Homo sapiens: one gene and its partners. The protein of the gene in region 7 purifies or fractionates together with the protein of the main gene of each other region. This does not show direct contact. Each region holds a gene or a part of one and is shown on either strand. Other genes may lie near its edges. The genes, in order: ITPRID2, MYO1E, MYO5B, KIAA1671, ARHGAP10, MYO1C and NRXN1.

Region 1 (4,196 bases), about 130 Mb from region 7:
ATTCTACACAAGAGTGGCATTCATTTGTATCCAGGAAAGCTAGAACAAGTAGTCTTTTAATCTTGGCTATATTATCACAGATTCGACTTAGGATATGTTGCATCTGTATTTTTGTTTTAAATAACAACTCAAGTTCCTTCTCAGAGTTGGGCATCTATGTATTTTGTTTATTATGTACAAATGACCTGAAGACAGCATTTTACCCACTTGATAAGTTCTCAAATAGTCTTTGTTTCTTAGTGCCGTCCATATCCTGAATAAAGATACCGTGTTTTCTTTCCTTAAAGGGAGTCTTTATTTTGATAACCATTTGTGGGGGGACTAAGTAAAAACTGCTTGAATTAACATTTAAGAAATGGTAGAGATTTTGATAGAATTTGGAAGGGAGCAACTATAAAAGTAAGATATTTGTTTTCGAAGGAGGATTCCTGTTACTCTGCTTATCTACCATTTTCTGTTAGTGCATAGACCAGTAGAGACATCTGTGGACAGAGTAATACAATGTTTACATCCAAGAAAGTAGCCATCAGGGAAGGATGACTTTTTAAAGACATACATTAGAATTTTATTAAAATATATGCAAAAAATAGATTAAAGCTTTTATTAATATATTTATGGTAATTGCTTGTGATTCTTTTACGTTTCAAAAGCACTAAGTTTTAAAGAGCTGCCATTGTTAGTATACTTGTAGAAAGTTTTAACCTTTAATTGGCATTTCAGTAACATTTCCTTGAAACTGATATTTTCATGATTGATCCCATGTCTCGTGAATTTTTAACAGCTATAAATTGTTACTGAAGAAAGGTGTGCATCACAAAACAGACCCTCCAATATAAAACAATGTGTTTCTTACTATAACTTGGTTTCAGAGAATTAAAAGTGTTTATTTTTGTATTTGAAAAAAAGATATTTCTCTCATCTGTATTTGAACTACAAGAATGAAAAAATTTTAGCAATGGCTAATCTTAATGTTGATTCTCAAGTCAACTTTTTAGTAATTTTCAAAGTTAAATGAAGAATATATATATTTTTTAGCTTAAAAACAAAGCGAATCTCAAGCTTCTACATTTACATAAAAAGATAGTTGTTGGGGCAAGGGGGAGGCATTAGGTGATGCTCTGAAATGCTAGTGATAGATTAACAGATGAGGTTTAAGGAAACTATTGGGCCTCATTTCCAACTACTCTTCACTTTTTAATTTTATTAAGGTTAAGTTACCTATGACTGAAGATTTGTTTTCTTCTAATTCTGTTTTCTTTTTTGATGGAAGGGGTTGAGAAGAACAGACATTTTCTTAATGCTTATTGTCAGTCATTCTCTCTTTTTTGCAAAGAAAAATGCCAATTCAAATCATTTGTCATTGCCATTTTTGCCCCTAATTGTTAGCACATCAGACATGATTAAATCATTCCTGCTGAACTGACCTGATGGCAGGTATTTGCTTAGTTAGTGAATATTACTTATGTAATCTACTTGCATTCCTTGTGTGTTTTTGGAGGAGAGTTTAACTGTGATTAGAAGCTTATTGAGCTGTAACTCTTTAAGTAAGGCTGTGTAATGACAACTTTCCAAATAGCCTTTCACAAGACTAAGGCTTATACGTTTATATGGTTTCAGTACACCTTTGGGAGCCTCACTGGATGAACAAAGCAGTAGTACACTCAAGGGTAAGAGAAGGTTGCCTTTCTAAATCTGTTCTTTATGACAGTTCTACTTCTTTGTCCTCTGGGTAAAAGTGTATATATGACTTATAAAAGTGATATTCATGTTTATAGTATATGCTATTCTGAGCTAGAAGCAAAATGGAGAAACTTTGTTATAAACCGTAAAACAGTAGGGAGTTTAAGCAAATTGCCTAGCCTTTTCACAACGTGAAACTTATATCTTTATTGTCCAGTTAGGTATTATAAAGACTAATTAAATATGAATATATAATATGCAAATATAAGGAAAATACTTATTGAGTGAACAAAAGTTTAGTCAACTTTCGTGCAGCATTTCTTTGCTTACATTTACTGAAATTGCCACACCTAAAATTTTACCACCTGTTCAAGACAGAATTCTAAAGTTCAAAGTACAACAAGCATGTGCAGGCAGTGGCAAGGCATATAAAAAAACATTTACAGTGTCAGGAAAATCCAGCTCCTGACTTAATATGAGATGGATAAGAAGAATATTTGCTCCAGGATCTGGTTTTCCATGAAACTCTTGGTATGTAGTCTGATTGAACATCTTCAAAAATATAAGTTTAAAACAGCCTATAGGTTGGCTTCTGAGAACTTTATGTTGCTGGAAAAGTGGTTTCTTTACGTTAAAGTAAAAGCTTATACCTGCTTCTTGAAGTTATATAATCAGAATAATGTCTGAGTACATTCAAGTCTGAAAGATTTTACTGTATAAGATATTTTGCTGGGTGAATTTAACTAAAACAGTGATTTTATATGAGGGTGGAGAGGAACAGAACACCAGGATGAGTTTTCAAATGTGTCTTTCAGGTGTGCTTGTGAGAAATGGAGGAAGTTTTGAAGATGATTTGTCATTGGGAGCTGAAGGTATGTTTGTTTGGAAGAACTGTATTTTTGTGTAGTTTTCAAATTTAAAAAAAATGAGAAAGCTGAATGGTTTCAGGTTTATGATCCTCAAGCTAAATTTAAAGGTCTTGAAAATGGCTCAGGCATATTTTACATTACCTTTCTTTGTTAATAATCTAGTCATAGTCTGTAGGATACATGTAGGGATGACTCTGAAAAACTATGTGAAGTGTCCATCTGTCTTTCTTGGACTAAATGCTTAAAGGAACAGTTTGTAACAAACCGTGGTAATATAACTGAGGGAAGAATTGTCCTGAAAAAGGAAGGACACTTAAATATTTATACATGGGAAAACAAAATTGAAGCTTATTTTTAGCGCAAAATAGACTTATGTCATACTTACAGCTGCAGCTTGTCTTTCTCTTTGCATTTAAGTGTCTCCTGTCTTTTCCCCATTTTCCTGATTTTTAGAAAATTAAAGGGGAAAGACAAAATAGCAGAGCTAATAGAATTTTATTAGAAATCATGCTGGTGTTTATTCCAGAAAGCATTAGATTTTAAAAAGTGTGTTGTGCTATTTAAAAGTTTTTACAAGTTATGTAATGTTTTCCAGTAGATTTATAATAAAGCTTTCTTGTACAAAAAATAAGAATTTTTAATTATTTTACTGGTGTTTTAAAAGCTATTTTATAGCTCATTGATCAAATTGCATAGATTATTCATAGCTGTATAGCTCAGTTATTAATGTGTACTTTTTTAAAAAAAACAAGGATTTTTAAAAAGTCTTTAAAGCTTACAAGTTGGTGAATAGTGAATTTATACATTGAATTTAATATTCTTGATTTTTTCCTGTTTCAAATGCATCTGTAAAGTAAATTACTTATTTAGAACCTTCTAACATTTAAAACTCTGGAATATGCAAATATATTAGTTCTTATTATTTCTGTTCATATATTTTCAAGCTCTATAAAGAGCTTAAACTTACTGATTCCCACTCAGTACAATTGAACATGTTGTCAATCCGTTATTAAAATGCACTTTGCACTTTTGATATTTGCCTTGGTAGTTTGATAATATTGAATGATTTTATTGGAAACCAGAACCTAAAAAGGAGTCTCATGAAAGAGTAAATCTATTATGTTGTTTTACTGAAAATTATTTCAAGGCTATTTCCATTCATTAAGTAAATAATTACTGAGTGCTGTGAGTTAGGCACCTTTCTGGTGGATGTACAAAGAAACACAAAATTGTCATAACTTTGTAGATCAGAAATGAAAAGCAATTCATGTGTGCTGAAATAGATGTGTTTATAATTAATTTTATTCTTTGTATTTGTCTATAAATTTAACTTTAAACATTAACACTTACCTGTTTAGAACTTTAAGCTAAAGTTCTATCATAAAGTTGAAAGGCAATTTTTAAAAGAAAGTTTATATTGAAATAAGTAGAAATTTTCATGTTATATGTGTGAAAAATCAGTTATAACCTTAAAAAAAATTCACATTAGAAACTGACATATACTATTGCCACACTTAATGTTAAATCATGTTTTCCTCTTAAGATATTATTCATTAATAGCTTTTAAATTTAATAATTAGTACCACATATATGGTACATATCTTCCTCATTACTTATTTCTAACCTGTTAAAGAAATTTAACTGGTT
Region 2 (4,165 bases), on a different chromosome or scaffold from region 7:
CCATGTTGAATTTCTAAATATATACAAATAAGTTTAAGATAAACCACTATTTCTCCAAACTTTTCTTAATAGTGTCAGCATTTCAGCATCTCTACGCAGATCTAAGTCTCCTTCCCCTGTGGGTCACTTACCTATTTCAGCACCATTTGTTGGGCATCTCCTTGAGCCTGGCACTGGCTGGGCACACGATGCAGGTGCTAAGGGCTTGGTCTGTGATTTCCATGGATGAGGGTGTTACTCGTGGGGGTTTAACTCAGTCCCTGTTTTGTGACCTAGAGCCCGATGGTTCCCAGTTACACACAAGTGTAAAATGCCAATCAATCAATCAGGAGGAAAAACAAAGGCTTGTCCCAGCCAGCCAGGGGCTTATGATAACAAGGGAAGATGGTCCTGGTGTTCCTGCCCTGAGAACGCAGCCTGAGTGCTGGTGGCTGTGGGGACTCCAGCATGCTCCTCTGTCCCAGTTCTGGTGGTATCTTCCTCCCACTGCGGGGAGTCCATGAATGTGAAAGTACTTTAGAGACCACTAGTGTCAACAGGATTACCTTTCCTCAACTCACCGCATCATGGCTCTACTTTCCTCTCTGGTCGCAACATGGAACTGAAGTAGCCTTTTAACATTATTCGTTACTGTTACAGAATGGAGTTTGCTCCCTGTTCTTGAAGTAAAACACAGCAGAATTAAATGTATCTTCGTTTCAAATCTAGATCAATTTTTTTCCCTTATACGTAAGCCCTGATAATTTTTTCCCATGGACTTGAGGATCCTGAAAGCCTCAAAGGTGTATGCTGCTCAAACTCTAAGTTACCAGTAGCTTAAGAATGGCTATGGCACCCAGAGGAGGAAAGGTAGAGAAATGGCAGTCTCTACTTACAACCATTCCATTATTGATGGGCATTACACTGATTCCAGCTTTTCACTATTATGGCAAGAAAACATTGTTTTAGTTTGTTAGGGCTGCCGTAACAAACTACCACAAACCGAGTGGCTTAAACAGCGAAATGTATTGCCTCACAGTTCTGGAGGTTGGAAGTCCAAGACCAAGGTGGGCAGGGCTGGTTCCTTGTGAGGGTGTGAGGGAGAATCTGTTCCAGGCCTCTGTCCAGGGCTTGTGAATGGCTGTCTTCTCCCTGCCTTTTCACATGGTCTTTCCTCTGGCATGTTGGTCTCTGTGTCCAAATTTCCCCTTTTCATCAGGACACCATTATATTGGATTAAGACCCACTCTAATGACTTCATTTTAATTAGTTTTGTTTGTTTGCTCCATAAAGACTCTATTTCCAAATAAGGTCATATTGTGAGGTACTGGTGGCTGGGACTCCAACATCTTCTTTGGAGGCACACAATTCAACCCATAACAAATGTCATAAAAGAAGAAGGTGTTCGCCGATTCCTTTATTTATTTAGGAGGTGGGGGCAGGACGCGGAGTAAGTTTCCTATAGGGAAAGAGTTGAGAAGAGTCTGCAGGGACTGACCTAGAAAGCAGTGACACTCCGTAGTTGGAAAAAAGCAGAGCACATCTTTAAGTACCTGGTGTGAGTTTTGTAAGAAAACCTACCTTATGAATGAGTACAGTGGAATACTACTTAGTACATTCATACATGTTTCTACCATCTCAAGATTTTTATATATACAGTATATGATCTGTTTTTATAAATGTACAGCTTGAAAAAAGATCCTTCTTGTAGTAAGTACAGCATTTAAACACAAACCAATATGGGCCAGCCACATTCTAATTGAAGACCCAGAGAAAGCAAAGCCAGCAGCCCAGCCCCCAGCCCCCAGCCCCTGACCTGCTTGGCGGCCCTGATGGTCCCGGCAAAGTGTAAACCAGTGCCCCTCTGTCGCCCTGGGCTCAGCAGGCCAGCTTACCCTTGGCACGTACATGGGAAGTGCCTGCTCACGCTAAGCCCAGTCTGCAGAGGGCGGGTCCTCCCTGAAGGAAGGTGGCAGAGAGGAATGTGTCTATCAGGTATGGACAAGAGAGATGAAAGAAATGTGCTCTTCAACTAAAGGCACTTGTCAGCGGCCACCTACAGCCATTCTCTAGGCCTGGTGAGCAAGCAGGGTGCTGTTTTGATAGAAGCCTACAAGGTCTGAGCAGACCTCACTTGTCCTCTCACCAGGTTTAAATACAATAAATAAATCTTAATGCATGGTGGTTTTGTCCTCCTGGGTTCCTATGAAGAGGCTACCTTTTAGGATCACTTATGGAGTGATACTCCCTGTCCCCAACCCAGCCTTTTCAGTGTCCTCCATGGGGAAGGTACCAGAATAGCTCCAGGCCTTGGAGAAGCAATTGCTCATTGTGGATTGTAAGGGGAGCCCCTAAATATCCCCTCCCCTGGTCTGTGCCTGGAGCTCCTCTGCCCCATGTGTCAGAGTCACGGGCACCTCAGATCTTGGTCACATAGTTGTTGGGGAACAGGCCCTGCTTGCCTCGTAGTCGACCCGTCCACCAGCCAGAAGGATCTGCAGGGAGAGAGAGGTGGTGGAAGTGAAGATGAGAAAGTCTGTTCTGCCCCAGCCACACACACTCCGCTCCCATGGGCTCAAGTGATTTGGCTCCATCCATGTTGTTTTCCCTTTGTTCTTTAAATCAAAAAGTTTGTTGAAAAAAGTAAGATATCTACCAAATTAATAAAGCACTCAGCCAAGCCCATGGACTGCTTTAATAATGGATATTCAAGGTTGTCTTCCTGGCTTCCACTCCATCCACTTTCATTATGAAGAAGCCAGGAAGTGTGGGTGGGACAGACCTCCCCGTTTCTGGGGACAGCCCCTACCAGGTCTCATCCTCTCAGGGTACAGCCTTTGTCTTGCTACTGAAGTTGGTTCAGGGATGGACACATGGCTAATTTGGTCTGATCAGAATAAAAGTCAGGACTTTTGTCCAATGACTAAGAACAGAAGTTTCAGAGATGATGCACATTTCAGACATGGTTTGATATGTTGGCCTGGAATTGCTGCTGCCGTTTTGCTACCATGAAGAAAAACAGCTTGACAAGGGAGGGAATATAAATAAGGGGGCAGAGCTGAAAGAAGCATTAAAAAAGCTGGTGTCTTGATCAGACTGAGCCTGAGGCCTGACCTGCCTCTACAAATTGCAGTTTGAGGAGCCCATAAATTCTTTTCATTTTCACACTAGATCTTACAGCAATGTGACTGCATGCTCTTTGGGAGGCTGTCCCAGCCAACCAGCCACACACTTACCTTCTTTGATAATATCAATAATGTCATTGGCATTAAAGCTGAGTTCGTCTGTGTCCTGAGCGTCATAGGCATACAAAGCCTTGCACTGTGGCACCTGAGGCTTGGGCTTGGGCTGGGGCTTGGGTCTGCCCCCTGCTGGGGGAGGCCGACTGGTTGTTTGTCTCCTGACCCTGTGGAGAGAGTGGAGCAGATGAGACTGGGCCCCAACAGGGGGCAGCAGCACCGAACGGTGGTTTGGAGCATGGCGGCCGGCACTGGCCTGTTCAAGTTCAAATCCAGCTCCATCCTTAGAAGACATGTGGCCCAGGGTGCAGTCTTTAAACTTGAGGAATAAAAGTAACTTTTCTGACAAGGTTGTTGCAAATGCACATAGCTCTTAAAAACCTTAGCTGCTGTTGTCACTGTGTCCCCAGCATAGAAGGAAATGTGGGAGACACATATCCATAAAAAAGTGTCAAAAGTATACCCATACATTTAAATCAGGAACATTCAGGTATCTGTCCCTCCTTCCTCAAGTTTCGAAATGGAACTTTTGCAGGTGCCACAGAAGCCTGTAGGCATTTCTCCTTCACTGCATTCCCCCCAGATTACCACCACCTTACAGTTTGTATTAACCATTCTCTGGCTCATCTCTACAGTTTGCCACACATGTAAATACCCCTAGCCAATATTTGTGGTCCGACTGTCAACTGTATGAAAGGAATCATATTCCACGGTCACATGCTCAACAACTGGATGACGTGCCCTGCTGATGCCTGCAGCTATCGTTCCTTCACCCTTGCTGCCTGATACTACACCACTGCGCGAGTGAGTGTGTCACAGTTTACTTCTCCAGGGCACTGTGGATGGTCACTTGGGATGGTTCCAGTTTTCACTATTATAAAAAATGCTGCCATGAGATTTGCTCCCCATTCACAACCTTATTATGCCTCAGACCTCACTCCTGTCTA
Region 3 (4,196 bases), on a different chromosome or scaffold from region 7:
GGAGGGTGAGGCCTGTCCACACATGGATGAGGGCCAGGCAGTGGGGGAGGTGAGATTCTTGAGGGAGATGAACCCTCAGTGAGAGGGATTTCTACCTGCTAGCAGGCCTGTGCCCCGAGTATTATTGCTCTTAGAGACCATCTTTAGTTCTTACACATTACTGCTTCCAGGATACAAGCCATTCTCAAAAGCTCTGAGTCCAAACCAATTCTGGAGTCCACTGAGCTGCTGGTTGCTGCTCAGAATTCCAGAGCCAGCCTTTAAGTCTGGTTTCCTGCCCTCAGTAGCTGCATTGCCCTCCACAGGCAATTTTATCCACTCACGGCTCTAAAACATATCTGCATGCTCGTGGCTCTCAGATTTGTGTCTCCAGCCTTGATCCTCTTTCGTGAGCACCATCCAGCTGGAATCTTCGGCCAGTCTAGGCCAATTTAGGGCTGACACAAATGTCACTTCCTTAGGAAAGCCTTCCCTAATTCTGAGCTAAAATAGCATGTCCCAGCCCCAGCAGTCACTTTCTATTCAACCTCATTTCTTTTTTTTTTTTTTTCTTTTGGTCGTACCTCATACCACTCTGTCATTTAAATAATGATAACGCTTACTTGACAGAATGAGCTGCGTGAAGTCATCAGCTTTAATGCAGCAGCTGTCTCATAGCTGTTTGGGTTGCTGAGCAGGCTTTTTCACCTAGTTAGGGTTTGTAGCCATTTTCTAGAGAGTTAAAGCCATGATGCATCTGACATCTAGATAAATGGGACACCAAACTATTTTGCTGTTATGCTCTTCAGCATCCCTTGTGTTGGATAACTGGCAGTTCAGAAACAGAGCCAGCTAGCCCAGGCGGTTAGACGAGAGCCCGGGGCTGTTGGGGCAGAGCCTCATCTGTCACTCAGCTTTGCATTCATTCTTCAGCCATGGAAGGCAGCCTGTCCTTTATGTGTGTCCCTGTATGTGCACCACTGATCAGGAGACCAAGGTGGGGGTTCTGTGCACCATCCCTGGTGGTAGAGGAACACTCACACAGCCTCTCAGCAATGGGTCTCAACCCCGTGACTGGCAAGTGCCCTGCCCAGCCTCAGGGCTGCTCAGGAACACTAGGTAAGGGTAGGAAATGTGGGGAAAGAGGTACCGAGGAAGCATTTCACCAGATGGGAGCCACTTAGAGCTGAGGATGTCCTTTTCTTTTCACAGAAGCACAATGATGACTTTGAGATGACGTCATTCTGGTTATCCAACACCTGCCGCCTTCTTCACTGTCTGAAGCAGTACAGCGGGGATGAGGTGAGTGGGGAGCCAGGCACCCAGGAGGCATTCCTGCTTCATCCAAATGTGGTTGAGAAGTGCTTTGTATACCCTCAGAGGTCAGTGGGGTCTTTGGAGCACCCTTGGGGACCTCAGACCGTGGGCACACCTTATCATGCCTCGTGGCTGGAAGCAGCAATAAGGCCAGCCACAGGAGACCTGCCTCTAGGAGGCCTTGATGAGCCCAAGGGGCCCCAAAAAGCACTCCTGGGTTATGTAAGTAGAGTCTGCATAACCCATGATCAATAGAGGCCCTGGGAGTCTCCATGAAACTCTTGTAACCTGACATTTCTGTATCAGCTCTAGAAGCCCCACTGCAGTGGATACTGGCAGGGAGCTCAGTTGCCTAGTGGGTCACCCTGTCTCCTAAGCCAACTGATTAATCTGTCCATTTCAAGATAGACAAAGATGGCCACAAGAACAGAGGCACACCATAATCAGAACTACGTGTGTGCAAACTGACCTGGAGGCCCAGCTCCATGCATTTATCCAAATTGGATTCCTTGACCTGAGGCCCAACTACTAACCCCATCACTTCACAATCCACACCGGACCTGTAAGGCCCAGCTTTTTCTGGAACTCACATTCCTAGCTTTGGTCCCTGAAAGAACTTCTCCCATGCTCTGCACTCTGCCCAATGACCTAGTAATATGTGGCTTGTTTCCATTCTAGTTTCTCTGGTGAGAATCCCAGCTTGTTCCAGATATGCCCGCTCACAGGTTCCTGTAGGTCTTCCAACTTTTCTTCCCCTTCCTTTCACATATCTCACCATCCACCCTTCCCAAGGTCAAGACATAGTGTAAACCAAAATAGTGCGACCATTTTTAAAGCTTTATTCCATCTTTTGTGCCAGAACCAATTTTGACAGACTCTTCTCCCTGGGTTAGTAAAAGGATATGCCCTTCCTTTCAGTCTTACCTTCTTTGCAGTTGGCTTGACGCCATCTCTCTCCTAAGAACCAGCACTTCATTTGATGGCCTGCTTTTATTATAAAAGAGATGGGCCAAAGGTTAAAGAAATAGCCATTTCAAACCCCATGACTTCTGTTACAAAATCATAATATCCAAGCATTTACTTGAAGCATAGAACTACATGTAATGTTATTTCATTGAGGTCCATCACTTTACCCAATGTTATACACATTCTAAATGGGAGGTTATATAAGGCTAGGGCAGGACCTAGAACTCCATTACATTAGGTTGTGGTTACATGTGCTCATATTCTCTGGGTCAAGAGCTGAACCACAGCATGACCAGATCCGTGTAGTCCAAATAACAAGGAAGAATGATTGACTCTATCTTCATCATTACAATTATCCCCTTTTCTGCCTGCTTTTTTTCATATTAAGATGGCTTTGTATTTGACACAGTACAACAGGCCTTGCTGAAGATGGTTGCCCTTTTGGGAGCACTAATCTTTTTGGCAGATACTGGTTTCCCTAGGCCTGAATGAAAAGGACATTGGTCACATGAGCCCTTCTGATATCAGCAGTTCCCTTAACTTACATGTGATTTCATCTGATTAATACAGAAAGCTAAGAGGACACAGTGCGGTAGCTATGAAATCACTTTAGTTCATCTATTAATTCTGATAACCAGTGATAGAATCTGTATAAAATTTCTCCTCATACAAGCGTATAATCTGGCCCATGGCCACACTCCTTTAGAGGCTGCACATCATCTAACATTTTAGGGGGACCTGATATATTGAGGAAAGCGCTGGATGAAGGGAAAAAGCAGGGATCCCTTTCTCTGGACCTGGTACCAACCTAGGTTTTGCTACCGTAGGGAAATCACTTCGCCTCAGGGATTTGGACTGAGCGATTCAGGCTTTCTCTCTCATGTTGAGTTTTTCTACATCCTTCAAGTTCAAGGGTCATCAATGAGGCCTCAAAGAACTGACAGGCTTTTGTAAAACATCATCTACATAGGGAGGGCCTGAGTAGGCCCCCTGCCCACCAAATAGATGACTAAAGTTACCAGAGCCCTGGAAGTTGTGCTGGGCCCAGCAGACCAGAGAACTCAGTAGTGCACGCCTCTCCCTCTGCAGGGCTTCATGACTCAGAACACTGCAAAGCAGAATGAACACTGTCTTAAGAATTTTGACCTCACCGAATACCGTCAGGTGCTGAGTGACCTTTCCATTCAGATCTACCAGCAGCTCATTAAAATTGCCGAGGGCGTGTTACAGCCGATGATAGGTAAGCTGGCAGCAGGAGAGCTACATCACTCATCATGGTGTCTGAAATGAGGGGAAGGCGTGGTCAGCACCCTCTGCCTTTCGGGAACCAGATATCTTAGCCATGACCTCCAGAAAGCCAGAACCTTCCAGTGAAGGCAGAACTGAGGTGTGCACATCATGCTTAAAAAGCTGTGAAAGTATTTGACACAGTGCAAGAGGCATAGATGACTTTCCCTTTATCTCTTTTTCTGTAATATGTTGTATTTTTTCCCAAATTTTAATACATAATAAATGTAAACTCAAAAGGTACAAATGCATATACAGTGAAAAAGCATAACCCTCTTAACCTATTATGAACTTGATTCATGGAAAAAAGCAGGAGTGTTCATGCGAAAGGACACAGCAGTCGGCACGATGCATCAGTATTTATTAGACACTTGCTTTGAACCAAGCAGTGTACTTGGGCACTGAACATGAAATCAGAATTGAGAAATGAGAGCAGTTACATTTTCAATCGGAAGAAAAATTATGTGTAGATGCATTACTCACTGTGCTCTGCAAAGGCTGGGAAGGAAAGTGTACCTGGACCTATTCATAATGCTTTCCCCAGGTTCTTACAACACAAGTAGGTTATGAGTGAATCCCAAGAAGGACCAATCTAGAAATACATTACTTGAAATGAGGTTCATTCCAAACCCTCCTTCCTGTCTGGA
Region 4 (4,196 bases), on a different chromosome or scaffold from region 7:
CTACTTGGGAGGCTGAGGCAGCAGACTGCTTGAACCTGGGAGGTGGAGGTTGCCCTGAGCCGAGATTGTGCCACTGCACTCCAGCCTGAACGATAGAACAAAACTTCGTATCAAAAAAAAAAAAAAAAAAGAAAAGAAAAGAAAAAAAATTAGCCTGGCAGTGTGTCAGGCTGTGTCCCATCTAATTCAGAGGCTGAGACAGGAGCATTGCTTGAGCTCAGGAGTTCGATGCTGCAGTGAGCTTTGATTGCACCACTGCACTTTAGCCTGAGACAGAGTGAGTCCTTGTCTCAAATAAATAAATACATAAATACATAAAAATTTAAAAAATTAAAATTAAAAATAAAAGGAAGCTGGTCAAGCACAGTGACTCAAACCTGTAATCTCAGCACTTTGGGAGTCAGAGGTGGGCGGATCACTTGAGGGCAGGAGTTTGAGACCAGCATGGCCAACATGGTGAAACCCCATCTCTACTAAAAAAAAATAAAAATAAAATTAAAAAAAATTAGCTAGGCGTGATGGCAGTTGCCTGTAATCCCAGCTATTCAGGAGGCTGAGGCATGAGAATCACTTGAACCTGGGAGGTGGAGTTTGCAGTGAGCTAGATGGTGCCACTGCACTCCAGCCTGGGCAACAGAGTGAGACTCTGTCTCAAAAAGTAAAAATAAAAGGAAGCTAACAAACAATCGAGGCACATACACACACACACACATATATATATTTTTTCCTTCAATGCAATGAATATTTTATTGAGCATCTTATGTGGGCAAGGCACTCTATTTGTGAAAAATTCAAAAGATCACCTGCCCTTAGGAATCCTCTGGTCAACTGTACGAGAAGAAGGAAGGGGGCAAGGTGAGACAAGTAAGCAAATAATTATGGACTTGACTTCTGGGCAGAAGCTATCACAGCTACATTTGTTAATTGCTCAGTTAAGTGACCTTTGAAATGTTCTATAGCCATGTCTCCATTAAGAATATGAAATACGGCCGGGCGCGGTGGCTCACGCCTGTAATCCCAGCACTTTGGGACCCCGAGGGAGGTGGATCATTTGAGGTCAGGAGTTCGAAACCAGCCTGGCCAACATGGTGAAACCCCGTCTCTACTAAAAATACAAAAATTAGCCAGGTGTGGTGGCGCCTGTGGTCCCAGCTACTCGTGGGGCTGAGGCGGGAGGATCACTTGTACCTGGGAGGGAGATTGCAGTGAATCGAGATCATACCACTGCACTGCAGCCTGGCGACAGAGTGAGACTCCGTCTCAAATAAATAAATAAATAAATAAATAAATAAATAAATAAAATAAAACAAATAATTTCACACGTGAATTAAAAATAGATTTAGGTACTTTCCCATTTCAGAATGTGTTGATTTACCTCATTATTTTTAAAAGCTGAATAAGGCCAGCTGTGGTGGCTCGGGCCTGTAATCCCAGCACTTTAGGCGGCCGGGCGGATCACTTGAGGTCAGGGGTTCAAGACCAGCCTGGTCAACATGGTGAAACCCCATCTCTACTAAAAATACAAAAATTAGCCAGGCATGGTGGCACGCGCCTGTAATCCCAGCTACTCGGGAGGCTGAGGCAGGAGAATTGCTTGAACCCAGGGAGGCGAGTGTTGCAGTGAGCTGAGATCGCGCCACTGCACTTTAGCCTGGGTGACAGGGCAAGACTCCGTCTCAAAAAAAAAAAAAAAAAAGAAAAAACTGAATAATTTCCAGTGCATGAGGTGCTATGAGCTTATTTAACCGATCCCCTGTTGATGGACATTGAGTTGTTTTTCAGGTTCTTTTTTTTTTTTTTTTTTTTTTGCTATGACCGAGTGCCGCAGTTAACATCCCTGTTGACATGTCTTTGCACATTTGTTGTAGTAGGCTGGAGGACAGATTTCCAGGATGTGGAACTTTAGGGAGGAAGGGTGTTTAGAACGTTGAAATGACCTGCCCAATTTCCCAGCAGAGTGGCTATACCTTTCACACTCTTACCACAGCTGTGCGAGAGACAGCCTCTTTGTATATTTCAGAGAGAAGGAACAGTGTTTGGCTGTCTCTTGTCTTTGGCCATAGGACATGGCCTCTGGCCTGAGGGAAGGTGAGAGTTCTTATAAGTGACAACATTTTGTTGCCCTTGGGGTTCTTTTTGTTGTTGTTGTTTTTGTTTTGAGACAGGGTCTTGCTCTTTCATCCAGGCTGGAATGCAGTGGTGCGATCTCAGTTCACTGCAGTCTCAACCTCCTGGGCTCAGGTGGTCCTCCCACCTCAGCCTCCCAAGTAGCTGGGATTACAGGCATGCACCACCACGCCTGGCTAATTTTTGTAGAGACGAGATTTTGCCACATTACCCAGGCTAGTTTCAAACTCCTCAAGCGATCCTGCTGCCTCAGCCTCCCAAAGTGGTAGGATTGCAGATGTGAGCCACCACACCCAGCCTGGCCCTTGGGTTTTAATACAAACTGCTGGAGACTCTGTCTCGGAAGATATTTGCCCATGTACACACGAGTCTTTCTGGACATACGTGGTCCCTGTATTAGTCAAGCTTTTCTGTGATCATACTGTGTAACAAACATCTCCTACATCGCAGTGGCCTTTAACAGCAAACATTTGTTTCATGCTCACGAGTCAGCAGGTAGCTTGGCTGACCTTAGCTAGGCTTCACCAGCAAGGCTGGCCCTAGGCTTTGGATTGGGTTCAGGTCTGGCTCGTGAATCTTCATCCAGATTCACAGGCTGAAGGGTGGCAGCCAGCCAGGGCGTGTTCTTCTGTGGTGGACAACAGAAGCCTCCGTTCTGAACTGAGAAGCTGTCACTTCTGCTCTCATGCTATAGGCTGAAGCAAGTCACGTGGCAAGCCTGACATCAATGAGTTGAAGTCTACTCCTCTCATGGAGGCTGAAGAAACATTTGCTGAGCAATAATAGAACCTGCCACAATTATGTTTCTGATGGGGTAGGACGGGTCCTTGCAGGAGTAGAGGGTCTGCCTGGAGGGCATGGGTAAGAATCATGGCTCATGATTTGTGTGGGACAAGTGGTCGCAGAGCAGAGGCTCTGGGTAAGGAGACCTGGTTTGAGTTTATAACCAGAGACAGGCAGTTCACCAACTGAGTCTCAGTTTCCTTATCTGGAAAATGGGAATAATTTGTCTTCTCTGGCGAGCTGCTGGGAAGCTCAGAGATATTACTGCATAAGAAGGTGCTTTATACCTGTGAGGCGAGATGGGAAATGAGGGATGATTGTCTTGATGATGATTTTTGTGCTGGAGCTGGCTTACAATCCCCTGAGCAGTGACACCTGTAGCCAGTAGAGTGAGAGAACGCAGCGACGCCAAGGTGAGACTGGGAGGGATAGGCCTGGGTTTGAATCCCAGCTGTGCTCGTTGTGGGCCACGTGACTTTTGATCAGCCTCATCACATCCCTCAGCCTCAGTTTGCCTGTCTGTAAAAGGGTCACAGTGTGCTTGTGCCCATTAACGAGGACTGTGAAATGCTTGGCATGAGGTAGATGATAACCAGATGGTGGCTGTGAGGATTGGCATGGAGCTGAGGGGGTCCTGATAGGGGCAGAATGAGGAATTCCGCCACCCATTCCCTTGGGAATATTGCAGGGAACCTGGAGCCGGACTGCTTGGATTCAAATCCCAGCTCCACCGCTTACCAGCTGTGTGGCCTTATGCAAGGCAGTTAACCACTCTGGGCCTCAGTTTTCTCATCTGTAAGCTGGGAGTAATAAGAGAGCTGGCCTCATGAGGTTGACAAGCATTAAATGTGTTAACACATATGGCACTTGCTAATGAATTTACATGAGCCTTAGCTAGTATCGTTAGGATTACTAGTATTATTATTAGTCTACGGAGGCCCAGAGAGGTTGCTTCCCTTCCTGGGAGCCACCAGGGCCTTGGGGAAAAGAATGATGAGAAGCAGATGCTTTTTGGGGCCCTGCATCTGAGCCGGTGCGCTTTCCCCCTTCTGCTGTAGCTGATACGGGTCAGTCCAGAGCAGGCCTTTGAGGATGGCCAAAGTGCCTTTACCAGCCACACAGCCCTCCTGAGTCCTGAAGCAGCCCTGACCCAGCCAGAAAAGAGTCACGGGGAGCTCTGATCTAAGAAGTATTCACATGGCGCCACTATGAATGCACTCAGCAGGCTTCTGGGAGCCCAGGTTTATGAGTATCCGCAGGGGTCACTGAGCTAGCTGCACGGTTAG
Region 5 (4,196 bases), on a different chromosome or scaffold from region 7:
ACACAAATGAATGTTGTTCTGTATTAGTAGCTAGCTACCTATCACCCCTTTTTAGCTTTGTCACCCAGTTCCTCTCGCCATTGTTCTCTTCATGCTACAAATTAGGCTTGGATCAACAATGAAAAGCTCCAAGGCAATTTTTTTTTTTTTTGAAACGGAGTCTCACTCTGTCGCCCAGGCTGGAGTGCAGTGGCACCATCTTGGCTCACTGCAGCCTCCGCCTCCTGGGTTCAAATGGTTCTCCTGCCTCAGCCTCCCATGTAGCTGGGACTACAGGTGTATGCCACCACGCCTGGCTAATTTTTTTGTCTTTTTAGTAGAGACAGAGTTTCACCATTTTGGCCTGGATGGTCTTGAACTCCTGACCTCATAATCTGCCCACCTCGGCCTCCCAAAGTGCTGGGATTACAGGTGTGAGCCACTGCACCTGGCCTCCAAGGTTATTTTTTAAGTGACAACCCTGGTTAGAATGACTCCTAACTAAATCAAGATGAAACTATCACCCCATAGCTAAACCCGGTGATCAAGACTAAACAGCTTATAATGAACACACAGCCTGGAAATATAGCAAGATAACATTCTCCCAGGCCACAGAAATCACAGTTGCAACTAACCTCTATTTTTTTAAATCATTTTTTTAAAACGACTCTTTCACCATGTCCAATAATTCCAATAACTTACCGATCAGCAGCTTCTATGTCAAAACAAAACCTTCTGTCAATGGAGTCAGTATGCCTCTTGGTACATTCTTTCAAAAAGAACACCTCTCCGTCCCCCTGCAAATAATCATTTTGAACATTCTCAAAACCTACAGGATAAGTATATACACACTCAGCCATTCTATACTGGAGAGCAGGGGAGCAAGGTTCAAGATCTTAAGTCCTTCTCTTTACCCTATCCTCTTTCAAACTGGCTTATTTAAATGCTATTTAGAATCTAAAATATTAATATTTTTGTCATTCTCCTGATTCTTTTGAGAAGGGAGCCTCGCTCTTTCACCCAGGCTGGAGTGCAGTGGCAGGATCTTGGCTCACTGCAACCTCCATCTCCCAGGTTCAAGTGATTCTCCTGCCTCAGCCTCCAGAGTAGCTGGGATTACAGGCATGCACCACCACACCTGGATGATTTTTGTATTTTCAGTAGAAACAGGGTTTCACCATGTTGGCCAGGCTGGTGTCAATCTCCTGACCTCAGATGATCCACCCGCCTCAGCCTCCCAAAGTGCTGGGATTACAGGCGTGAGCCACCGCGCCCAGCCATTCTCTTGATTCTTAAGATTTTCTAGACCTTACTGATGATGGTAATGTTATGCCAGACAATACCAATGTTACTTTTTTTTTTTTTTGACAGTCTTGCTCTGTTGCCCAGGCTGGAGTGCAGTGGTGCAATCTCAGCTCACTGCAAACTCCGAATCCTGGGTTCAAGCAACTCTGTGACTCAGCCACCCAAATAGCTGGGATTACAGGTGTGCATCACCATGACTGGCTAATTTTTGTATTTTTAGTAGAGACAGGATTTCACCATGTTGGCCAGGCCAGTCTCAAACTCCTGACCTCAAGTGATCTGCCCACCTCGGCCTCCCAAAGTGCTGGGATTACAGGCGTGAGCCAGTGTCCCTGGCCAAATGTTAATTTTCAAAGGTAGATTAACAGTACAGTTTTAAGATACTGGAATACTGTTAGTCTCTTATTGTACTCTTTTTTTTAGTGTAAAAATTTATTTCTTACCACATGTCACAAAAAATATGTGACTATTTTTGGCCTATAAAAATTGCAATTCCATACACGTCAGCCTAAAAGTACACCGATAACCCTAGATTAAATATTTTCATAATCTAAAGCTAGAACCATTTAATCTATGCAATTTCTCTCTTCCCTATGTGAATCACCCTGAATTTATCTTTACTTAATTTGCAATGCAGAAATACAAGTGCTCAGTAAAAGAACAACTATATAAAGTGTGAGTACACACTTATTGAACATTTTAACATTTTCCAGAACGTGAAGATCTCTAAGTAACAAACATTAAGATACACAAATATTCAAAATCTCACAGTTATATTCCATAACATATTTATCATTATTATTTGGAGGCTAAAACAGAAAGATATCACTAAGCAGAAATATCTTAGGACTTGAACTGGCTCTGACAGGAAACTCAGTCTCAAACCTGATGCTTCAAGAGCCATCTCCTCACTTCCTTCTCCTCACCATGACTAATTTTCCATGTCTGTTTCATTATTATATAAATGTGTTTTTATTAAAAGCTGCTTTAAATATTTTTCAGGGAAAGGCATAGTACAAGTAAATAGAAGTGAACATAGGTTTTTCTTTTTTTATTCACCTAAGCAAAACCATACCCATTCACCCAGTAAGCAATGAATTAAGCTGCTTTCTTAAAATGTGTTATCAATTATGTTCAACATTGGTGGGAAGCTTTGTCTCTAGGCCATTAATTATTGTAATAAGCTGCAGATTCCATTTAAAATACATATAAAGATCACCTTTCCTACACAGCCAACTCTGTGAGGTCTTCTTGCTCTTTTCTTACTATCATGCTTTGCTGTTTTAGTTTCAGGGGGAACAGTTAACTAAATGGTGAATACCTATGTGAGAACTTTGTAAGATGAACAGAACAACAGTAAAATTTATCGTAGATCACTCTTCTTTGTTTTCAGGCTATGAACAGCAAGTCAGTTCCATTGTATAAATGCTGAGGAACCACTGAGTCATGAAAGCTTGCTGTCAGTGTTACCTTTATCTTCCAAACAGTGGCATAAAAAGGATTCTATTGTTCACCTAAAAAATATCTAGTGGTTAAAACCACATATTCTCACTCTTAAGTGGGAGCTGACAATGAGAACACATGGACACAGGGAGGGGAACATCACACACTGGGGTCTGTGAGGGGGCTGGGGGCTAGGGGAGGGATAGCATTAGGAGAAATATCTAATGTAGATGATGGGTTGATGGGTGCAGCAAATCACCATGACACATGCATACCTATGTAACAAACCTGCACGTTGTGCACATGTATCCCAGAACTTAAAAAAAAAAAAATCTAGTGGTTTAAAACCCATGCATGTAATTCAGAAAACATATATATTGTTCTGTCTTCTGGCCCATTTCACTCAAAAACAAAACAAAGATTTTAATACTAACAATTTATTTACCATCCATGAATATAAACCATTAAAATATAAACCATTAAAATGACACCCTCAAACACTACCTCTGACAGATTATAATCTATTCTATGTTGAATCAAATACTTACAAGTTTCCCTCCAGATCTGTGCTCAAATGGGATCATGTTGAACTTCTTTGCTGCTTTTCGATACATGCAATAGTGTTTGACCCAACTGGAACCAAACGGAGCAGGCCCTTCAACAAAAAAACAGCCCTTTATATTTTCCCTCATAAATAAGCAGATTTGCAGAGCTATAAACACATTACTAAAGAGGAAATGTCTAAAACGCAGCAACGAATACAGCTGAATCAATGAAACAAATCAGCAATACTGCTAGTTCTAAGAAGAAGAGGGGAGGCCGGGCACGGTGGCTCACGCCTGTAATCCCAGCACTTTGGGAGGTCGAGGCGGGTGGATCACAAGGTCAGGAAATCGAGACCATCCTGGCTAACACGGTGAAACTCCATCTCTACTAAAAAAAATTAGCCAGGCATAGTGGCAGGCGCCTATAGTCTTAGCTACTCGGGAGGCTGAGGCAGGAGAATGGTGTGAACCCAAGAGGCAGAGCTTGCAGTGAGCCGAGATCGCGCCACTGCGCTCCAGCCTGGGCAACAGAGCGAGACTCCGACTCAAAAAAAAAAAAAAAAAAAAGAGGAAGAAGGAAAATAAGAGATACTTTGAAACAAACCTCTAAGATTTAGCAAGACAGAAGTGATTTAAAGACATACTGTTTAAATAGTTTGCTAGAAAAATCAACAGTTATGTCCTATCTGAAAATCTCTTAATTGTAAGCTCTATTTTTTGTTTGTTTCTAGGTATTAAGAGCTCACAAGGGTTTCAAAAGTTCCATCCCATATATGAGATGGTTTGGGATTTAATTCTGGCCTCTCAAAATGATAGAATTATAGAATCATAGTGCTAAGAAGCATCTAGTCTAAAAATCCACCTAGTGCTTTAAGTCCATGAACAGCATCCTAGTAAGCAGCTGCTCTTACTGATGATTGAAAG
Region 6 (4,196 bases), on a different chromosome or scaffold from region 7:
GGCTGGGGGTGCACCCTCACCGTGTCCTCGCCTGCCCTTGGCAGCTCCTCAGCGTGGAAGGCTCGACGCTGCGAGAAGCCCTGACACACAGGAAGATCATCGCCAAGGGGGAGGAGGTGAGGCCGGGCCCTTGCCCTCGGGTGTGGAGGGGCAGCTGTTCCAAGGCAGCCCCTACTCCCATCACTCCCCTTCGCCTGGTTCCCTCAGCAATGCTGGAGGGATGGAAGGAAGGCTGCTCAGAGAAGCAGAGTGAGAGCCGAGCGCCGTGGCTCACGCCTGTAACCCCAGCACTTGGGGAGGCTGAGGTGGGCAGGTCACCTGAGGTCAGGAGTTCGAGACCATCTTGGCCAACATGGTGAAACCCCATCTACTAAGAATACAAAAATTAGCCGGGCATGGTGGCGGGCGCCTGTAATCCCAGCTACTCGGGAGGCTGAGGCAGGAGAATCGCTTGAACCCGGGAGGTGGAGGTTGCAGTGAGCCGAGATCACGGCAACAGAGCTAGACTCTGTCTCAAAAAAAAGAAGCAGCACAGTGAGCTGGCCAGGGTCACATAGGAAGAGAGTAACAGTCCGGCTAGAACCAGACTCCCACCTCGGGAAGGAGGCCTCCTGTCCCTCTACCACCTTCCCTCTGGGGTGGCCACCTGTCCTCCCTGAGGTCCCACTACCAGCACCCCTCCCCATACTGCAGGCTTGCTGGAGCTGGGAGTGCAGAGTGGTGGCGGCTTCCTGGTCTGCCTGAGCCTGGGAGCAGGTGGGATGCACAGGCTCTGTGGCATTCATCTCCTTGTCTCACGCTGCGTCCACAGCTCCTGAGCCCGCTGAACCTGGAGCAGGCCGCGTACGCACGAGACGCCCTCGCCAAGGCTGTGTACAGCCGCACTTTTACCTGGCTCGTCGGGAAGATCAACAGGTCGCTGGCCTCCAAGGTGAGGGCTCGGTCCACACTGCTCCCAAGGCAGAAGGGAGGGCCGTCGGCGAGGCGGGGGGTGCTGCAGGGTGGGGCTGGCACGCGCAGGGGGCCCACGCCTTCGGTTGAATGACTGCCCTAGGACGTGGAGAGCCCCAGCTGGCGGAGCACCACGGTTCTCGGGCTCCTGGATATTTATGGCTTTGAAGTGTTTCAGCATAACAGGTCGGTGCCATCTTTCCCCCGTCTCTCCTCCCGGTCTCCTGTCCTGCTCCCTCTCTTCTGTCCTCCAGCCTCTCATTCCTGCCCTGTGACTCCCCAGCCAGCCGGGGACTGTCTCTGTGTTTCTCACCTCCTGTGCTCAGGGGCGTCGTCCAGCTTTTCCCCTCTCCTGGTCCTGTGTCCCCACTGAGCCACTGTGGGCTCTTCTCCTTCCTTACAGCTTTGAGCAGTTCTGCATCAATTACTGCAACGAGAAGCTGCAGCAGCTCTTCATCGAGCTCACGCTCAAGTCGGAGCAGGAGGAGTACGAGGCAGAGGGCATCGCGGTGTGTGCTAGCCTGGGGGCACTCTCCGTGGGCCACGGGGAGCCTGGGTATCGGGGCCCCTGGGAGAGGGTGCCAGGACCCCACGGTGATCCCTTCCTTCCCTTCTGCCCCTCAGTGGGAGCCCGTCCAGTATTTCAACAACAAAATCATCTGTGATCTGGTGGAGGAGAAGTTTAAGGGCATCATCTCGATTTTGGTGAGTCCTCTGCGCCTCCAAGGCCTGGTGCTGGAGGCTGGGTGGGAGGATGTCCCCCTTCTCCGTTCTCTCCAGGCTGGTCCACGGAGGGCCAGAGTTTGGGGCTGAGTAGAGACAGGGCAGAGCTGTGAATGGAGGATGGAGGGAGGTGCCGCCCCAGTTGGAAGCTCTCTGTGGAGACTCCCTGTGATCTGCCCCTCCCCTGTGTCTGTGCCTCCCAGCACGGTGACCCCAATCCTCTGTGCGCTCTGACCTGTCCCCCATACGTCCTTCCCCCTGTGCCACACCCCCCAGGATGAGGAGTGTCTGCGCCCCGGGGAGGCCACAGACCTGACCTTCCTGGAGAAGCTGGAGGATACTGTCAAGCACCATCCACACTTCCTGACGTGAGTGGGGCTGCGGGGCTGCTGGGGGCAAGGGCTCACTTGCAGCAGAGCCTGCGGAGTGCAGGAGTCCCTCCGCCATCACAAAACACCAGCCACAAGGAGGTGACCAGGGACGGTGCTGAGTTAAGGACCCCTCACATGTGTCCAGAAACTAAGAAGCTTAGCCAGGCATGCTGACACGCCTGGAGTCCCATCTATGCAGAAGGCTGGGGCAAGAGCATCACTTGAGCCCTGGAGTTTTGAGGTTGCAGTGAGCTAGGATCAACCCACTGCACTCCAGCCTGGGTGACAAGAGCGAGACTCCGTCTCAAAAAAAAAAAAAAAGGGAAAAAAATAAATAATGAATTTTTTAAAAAAGAGAAAGAAGGCCAGGTGCAGTGGCTCACGCCTGTAATCCTAGCACTTTGGGAGGCTGAGGCGGGTGGATCACCTTAGGTTAGGAGTTCAAAACGAGCCTGGGCAACATGGTGAAACCCAGTCTCTACTAAAAATGCAAAAATTCGCTGGGTGTGGTGGCAGGTGCCTATAATCCCAGCTACTCGGGAGGCTGAGGCGGGAGAATCGCTCGAACCCGGGAGGTGCAGGTTGCAGTGAGCCGAGATCGCACCACTGCCCTCCAGCCTGAGCGACAGAGTGAGACTTCAACCCCAAAAAAAAAAACAAAAAACAAGACACTAGTAGCCTGGCTTCCTCCTTCTTCTTGTTTGAGAATGAAACTTGCTAAGATTTTTCATCTTCCTTGTTTGGAAATTGATTTTTATTGAAGGAATCCTCTGAAGTGGGGAGAGGTAGAAACAGGAACAAGCGCCTCTGTCCAGCGCGGTCTGATGCATGCTGTGCATGTCGTCGCTTCACCTGCAGCTGCTCCTTGAGGGGTTCTTGGTGTTTTCTCACTGAGACTCCAAGAGGCGAAGTCATTTCCCCAAAATTAGCTCTCATCTGGGTTGCCGAGCTGGGGTCAGTGCCAGGGCTGTTGAATGCCAAAGCCATGAGTATTTTTTGCATAATAATATATTGAAAATTTGTTTCTGGATGGGCGTGGTGGCTCACGCCTGTCATCCCGACACTGTGGGAGGCCTAGGTGGGCAGAGATCACCTGAGGTCAGGAATTCAAGACCAGCCTGGCCAACATGGTGAAACCCTATCTCTATTAAAACTACAAAAATTAGTCAGGCGTGGTAGTGGGCACCTATAATTCCAGCTACTTGGGAGCTAGGAGAATTGCTTGAACCTGGGGGGCGGAGCTTGCAGTGAGCTGAGATGGTGCCACTGCACTCCAGCCTGGATGACAGAGTGAGACTCCGTCTCAAAAAAAAAAAAAAGACTTGTTTCTAGGAGTCTCTCTGAATCTATTCGGGTTTAGGGGCTGCCTGATTCATTAAATAATAAATACTAAAAACTTGTTCCTGATTATAAAAATAATATTGCTTATTACAGCAAAGTTGGAATGTGCGCAAAAGCCACCTGTGATCCCGTCGCCCAAAGGCCATGGCTGTTAACTGTGTGAGGCATTTCCCTCCTGCCTTTTTCTATGCATTTTTTTTCGTAGTCGAGAACTTGTGTATAAGGCTCAGGGTAAATATCCTGCACATTTTCCCGTATCATCAAACAACATTTTCCTCAGAACACTTCCTGGAGCGGTTCTGACCCACAGATACTCCCCTCTCTCACCCAGCCCTTCGGGGCCCCTGGCCAGCCTCCCAGGTTTCTGCTGGAATCACAAGGCTGCCACAAACATCTCCGTGCCTTCAATCTTTGTCCGTGTCTCTGGTTAGCTGCTTGAAATAGTTCTTAAAAGCAAATGGGTGAAAGGGTATAAACACGCCTAAGACTTAAGTGCTCTCTTGGGGCAGCAGATTCCATTCTGAAAAGTAGTGCGCAGCTCACCACCCCTTCTGAGCAGAGCCCGCAGCGGCCGAAGCAACGAGAGTTTCCCTCCCTGCAGCGTACCCTGGCCGTCAGGAGGCCCAGGTCCCGGTCCTGGCACTGTGTGGCCCTGGCCAAGGCCATCTACCTCTCTGAGCCTCCATGGTCCGCTCTGATCAGGGAGGCCACTGGCCCTGCCTGGCCTGCCTCAGTGACCCAGCCCTGGGGGTGCACCTGCTCTTTTTTTTTTGGAGTGTAGTGGCACCATCTCGGCTCACTGCAACCTCT
Region 7 (4,196 bases):
AAAGAAAAAGATAACCATAATCAAATTTCTCTTTAAAACTTCGGGTTACCAACTAACAGTTATAATAAACTACAAGGGTGTCATGGCTGACTGTAAAAGTGTCATATTAACTATTAGAAAATGTTAGGACTTACTTGTAGTGAGGATAACAAAAGCTCCATACAAGAAGGTTAACTCTTTGCCTTACTAATAGGACCAGGTCTACACTTGTGTTATGAGCTGAATAATGATTTATATAATACTATATTGACTTTAGACCTTAATTTTGACTTTAATTCTCTGCAGATGTCTGAGTCCTTAAAAAAGACAAGATAAAACCAAAATGCATCACCAACACACAACCAATTGATGTGCTGGCATCTTAGCTTGGCCCTGCAGAGGCAGAGAGAAAAGAAGAGGAGCTGTTGCGATTTCCACATCTAACAGCTTCTGGCTATTTCGCAACTGCTGGGTTTGAGTCCTACTGTTGCCGTGGCTGAAAAGAGAAGTAAAATCCAACTTGTGAGACCACGCACAAGGAATTAGGCTTTGGCTGCAGCGGTGCTGAAGCCCATGCTATGACAGAAGAAGCAGGCCTTTGAAGCTATCCTCGGGTTAAGAAATGGTGCCCTAAAGAGGCAAGCATCCCTTTCTCCGTTCTGCTGTAAGACACCACATCTGAAGGAGACAGACTTGAGGCATTCACAAGCATCCAAGGATACTGGCTCACTGCTGGCTTCCTGTACTTTCTTGAGAAAAGTGTTTTCTTTTTACTGACTCTCACTGCTTCCTTTTGGCCTGGTACCACTGGTGGAACCTGGCAGATAATGGGATTTGAGGAGTTAAGTATCTGTTGACACTGCAGATACTCTTAAATTAGTTAATCAGACTCAAATGGGTCAGTGCTTTCCCTTGATCTTTTGTTGAAGCCTTTTCCAGAACGTTGTCTCCAAAGTGCATCCTCCCTTTGGTCTGGAAGTTCTGTGGCTACCCTGTACCACTGGGGTCAACGTTTTCCAGTTGGAAGAGGACTACAGGGAGAGAGGGCGGGGTTATTGGAAGAAGAAGAAGAAAAAAAGAACTAGATAAAGGAGGGCACATCCCTCTCACTCCCGCCTTTCCCCTTACCTTTCTGTCTCTCGGGACCCTTATTTCTTCGTCACGGTGTCCAGGACCATTTTGACCCTGTCGGCCCCGGCACCCCCCCGCCGCACCCCAGCCCCGAGCATGGGGACGGCGCTGCTCCAGCGCGGGGGCTGTTTTCTTCTGTGCCTCTCGCTGCTGCTCCTGGGCTGCTGGGCGGAGCTGGGCAGCGGGCTGGAGTTTCCGGGCGCCGAGGGCCAATGGACGCGCTTCCCCAAGTGGAACGCCTGCTGCGAGAGCGAGATGAGCTTCCAGCTCAAGACTCGCAGCGCCCGCGGCCTCGTGCTCTACTTCGACGACGAGGGCTTCTGCGACTTCCTGGAGCTGATTCTGACGCGCGGCGGCCGCCTGCAGCTCAGCTTCTCCATCTTCTGCGCTGAGCCTGCGACGCTCCTGGCCGACACGCCGGTTAACGACGGCGCCTGGCACAGCGTGCGCATCCGCCGCCAGTTCCGCAACACCACGCTCTTCATCGACCAGGTGGAGGCCAAGTGGGTGGAGGTCAAGTCCAAGCGCAGGGACATGACGGTGTTCAGCGGCCTTTTCGTCGGGGGGCTGCCCCCGGAACTGCGCGCCGCGGCGCTCAAGCTCACCCTGGCCTCGGTGAGGGAGCGGGAGCCCTTCAAGGGGTGGATTCGTGACGTGAGGGTCAACTCCTCGCAGGTCCTGCCCGTGGACAGCGGCGAGGTGAAGCTGGACGATGAGCCGCCCAACAGCGGCGGGGGAAGCCCGTGCGAGGCGGGCGAGGAGGGCGAGGGCGGGGTGTGCCTCAACGGAGGTGTGTGCTCCGTGGTGGACGACCAGGCCGTGTGCGACTGCTCGCGAACCGGCTTCCGCGGCAAGGACTGCAGCCAAGGTAAGGCCCGACGCCCGACCCACGGGGGCCGGGGCCTGGGCGGGGCTCGGGGAGGAGGGGACCGGGCTGGTGCATGGGGTCTTCCTAATCTTGGCAAACGTGTGGCAGTTCGCTTCGAGGGAAGGACCTTGTTTCTGGGGGACTCTCTACCTTACCACCTCCACAGCTTCTCCCTTGACATCCTCCTAAGGATTGGCAGCCCCCATATCCAAGTTTGAGTTCCTTCTGGAGACCTTTCTACCAACACTACTCCCTTCCAAGTGGCAAATACAATGGCCTCTTCTTATTCCTCGGGTTCTTTGGCAGGTTGGGCCCTATATTGGGCCGCGGCCCACCTATATGACCACTGTACTTGTCTCTACCACTTCTAAATCTGTAACACACAGACTTTGCCCTTAAGATGCAAACAAGCATCTAGAAGATTGGGCATGTGTTTGATGAGAAATGAAGCACAGGAGAGGTATACCACGGCCGTGGTTGAGAATCCCCACGTGGTTCTGGTCACTCGTGGTAAAGGACGAGAAAGACAGGGTTCACGGGCAGTGCTCTGCCTTTTGCAGATAGAGCGGTAAAAACCTGCTTTTCGTTGTGGAAAAAGGGAAAGAGAGGATGTGAAGCGTTTCTTCATTAGCAGGAGGCTTTTTGGAATAATGTTGGTTTCCACTGTTATATCCAAGTCCAACATTTGTGAAATTTAAGTAAAATTTTGTCATTTATGCGGTTTCTTGAAGTGTGAGGTCAGCTGACGTTTAAAAATGTTAGAGATTAAATAAGATTTCTTAATTAACAAATGCCTTATAAAGAGAAATAAAGTAGTAGAGAAATTTAGATGTTGCTGGATTGGGAAGCTTCTGCAGACTAATAAACAGGGATGCATGTAAGGGATTGCAAGAGATTTTCTAAGGATATTCGGCTAATGACATTTATCTGGGTAGTGGAGGCCAAGTTGTAATTTCTGTGGTTCTTGGGGCTTAAAACAGTGTGGCATTAAACTACAAAAGTCATACCTAAGTTCTCTTTTCTCCTCTTTAGAAATAAAATTCGGTCTTCAGTGTGTTTTGCCGGTGCTGTTACATGACAATGACCAAGGAAAATACTGTTGTATAAATACAGCAAAGCCTCTAACAGAAAGTGAGTGAGTGGTGTGAAAAAGACGAATCAGTGGCTAAGTAGGAGATGTCAGGATTTAAAGTAGATAGCTTATGGGTCAAAGCAAGGCAATCAACACATGGATAAATGGCATTTGTGGCTGAAATGGGTGAAAAAAGGTGAATTATTAAATCTGATTTCGAAAGCTATAGGGACAAAAGCTCTGTGTGGCTGCGTTTTATTGTATAATGTCTTTGATTTTTGCTGACAGTGCTAAGGGGAACTAGCCTTTGTAAATCTTATTAGAGTTGGCAGTTCTCTCTCACTTGACTTTAAGAGAAATGAAGACTTGATAAGATTTGTAATTGTTTAAACAGCAAGGAGAGTTAGTTAGGAAGAAAAAAAACTGGTCTTTAGGAGACTTCTGTAGCCTTCACAGGATTAGGAGGAGGGGAAGAAAGAAAGGGCTATTTTGTTGCGCTCTGTCTTCATGTGGGTTTTTGTTTTTCATTATATTTTGGCTTAGGTAATTATAGAAAACTGTGTATTCCATGGCCTATACAGCACTTCAGCTTTAACAGTACATTTCTATGGTTATGAGAGCAGGCTTTACAGTTATGTTTTACAAAATAAAAAAGATAGTTTTTTTCTTCTAGCAAATCTACTTGTGAATCATGAATAATATGCTAGGTAGATATGATAATTTCCATACTGTAATTTGAAGTTGCATACTTTTGCACTGATTAATAGAAACAAATTTTAAAATGAACATTATTTTATGGGAAAATTGTCTTAAGTATCCTAATGCCACTTTAAAATACAGAGAAGGCAATTTAATGAAGGACCCATGAAATATAGCTTCCTTCCTTAAATTAGGAAACAAATATGACACAATGACAGCTTGTACTGTGTGGGAGGGTGTTTTAAATGAAAATTTTTATTTTTCTATGCATTTTTAATGTAGGGATTCAGAGATCATGCATAATCAGGAACAGTTAAGAGTGGAAAAAGTAATTTGTTAAAGAGAAGCAGAATTAGATGTATCTGAAATGCATTTTATTTTGCAAATGGATAGCTCTTTCTATAAGATAAAGAATTTGGAATTACCAAGATGCATAATTGAACAGTG

The links.
Region 1: the proteins of NRXN1 (region 7) and ITPRID2 purify together in Homo sapiens (affinity purification with mass spectrometry, with the first as the bait; one large-scale study listed by BioGRID). This does not show direct contact.
Region 2: the proteins of NRXN1 (region 7) and MYO1E purify together in Homo sapiens (affinity purification with mass spectrometry, with the first as the bait; one large-scale study listed by BioGRID). This does not show direct contact.
Region 3: the proteins of NRXN1 (region 7) and MYO5B purify together in Homo sapiens (affinity purification with mass spectrometry, with the first as the bait; one large-scale study listed by BioGRID). This does not show direct contact.
Region 4: the proteins of NRXN1 (region 7) and KIAA1671 purify together in Homo sapiens (affinity purification with mass spectrometry, with the first as the bait; one large-scale study listed by BioGRID). This does not show direct contact.
Region 5: the proteins of NRXN1 (region 7) and ARHGAP10 purify together in Homo sapiens (affinity purification with mass spectrometry, with the first as the bait; one large-scale study listed by BioGRID). This does not show direct contact.
Region 6: the proteins of NRXN1 (region 7) and MYO1C purify together in Homo sapiens (affinity purification with mass spectrometry, with the first as the bait; one large-scale study listed by BioGRID). This does not show direct contact.

What each region holds. Positions count from the first base shown.
Region 1 is NC_000002.12:181,894,413-181,898,608, forward strand, and holds part of ITPRID2 (protein ITPRID2), read left to right. Parts: exon of another isoform or gene 1-286; intron 287-1,617; coding exon 1,618-1,667; intron 1,668-2,139; exon of another isoform or gene 2,140-2,211; intron 2,212-2,495; coding exon 2,496-2,552; intron 2,553-4,196.
Region 2 is NC_000015.10:59,134,983-59,139,147, forward strand, and holds part of MYO1E (unconventional myosin-Ie), read right to left. Parts: intron 3,386-4,165; coding exon 3,216-3,385; intron 2,475-3,215; coding exon 2,398-2,474; 3' UTR 1-2,397. UniProt on the Homo sapiens protein: Actin-based motor molecule with ATPase activity. Unconventional myosins serve in intracellular movements. Their highly divergent tails bind to membranous compartments, which are then moved relative to actin filaments.
Region 3 is NC_000018.10:49,838,450-49,842,645, reverse strand, and holds part of MYO5B (unconventional myosin-Vb), read left to right. Parts: intron 1-1,191; coding exon 1,192-1,281; intron 1,282-2,220; exon of another isoform or gene 2,221-2,283; intron 2,284-3,281; exon of another isoform or gene 3,282-3,351; coding exon 3,352-3,502; intron 3,503-4,196. UniProt on the Homo sapiens protein: May be involved in vesicular trafficking via its association with the CART complex. The CART complex is necessary for efficient transferrin receptor recycling but not for EGFR degradation.
Region 4 is NC_000022.11:24,958,869-24,963,064, forward strand, and holds part of KIAA1671 (uncharacterized protein KIAA1671), read left to right. Parts: intron 1-4,196.
Region 5 is NC_000004.12:147,878,418-147,882,613, reverse strand, and holds part of ARHGAP10 (rho GTPase-activating protein 10), read right to left. Parts: intron 3,383-4,196; coding exon 3,276-3,382; intron 777-3,275; coding exon 682-776; intron 1-681. UniProt on the Homo sapiens protein: GTPase-activating protein that catalyzes the conversion of active GTP-bound Rho GTPases to their inactive GDP-bound form, thus suppressing various Rho GTPase-mediated cellular processes. Also converts Cdc42 to an inactive GDP-bound state.
Region 6 is NC_000017.11:1,475,351-1,479,546, reverse strand, and holds part of MYO1C (unconventional myosin-Ic), read left to right. Parts: intron 1-44; coding exon 45-116; intron 117-811; coding exon 812-931; intron 932-1,054; coding exon 1,055-1,137; intron 1,138-1,354; coding exon 1,355-1,460; intron 1,461-1,575; coding exon 1,576-1,656; intron 1,657-1,950; coding exon 1,951-2,042; intron 2,043-4,196.
Region 7 is NC_000002.12:51,025,284-51,029,479, reverse strand, and holds part of NRXN1 (neurexin-1 isoform alpha4 precursor), read left to right. Parts: intron 1-285; 5' UTR 286-1,206; coding exon 1,207-1,978; intron 1,979-3,010; coding exon of another isoform or gene 3,011-3,109; intron 3,110-4,196.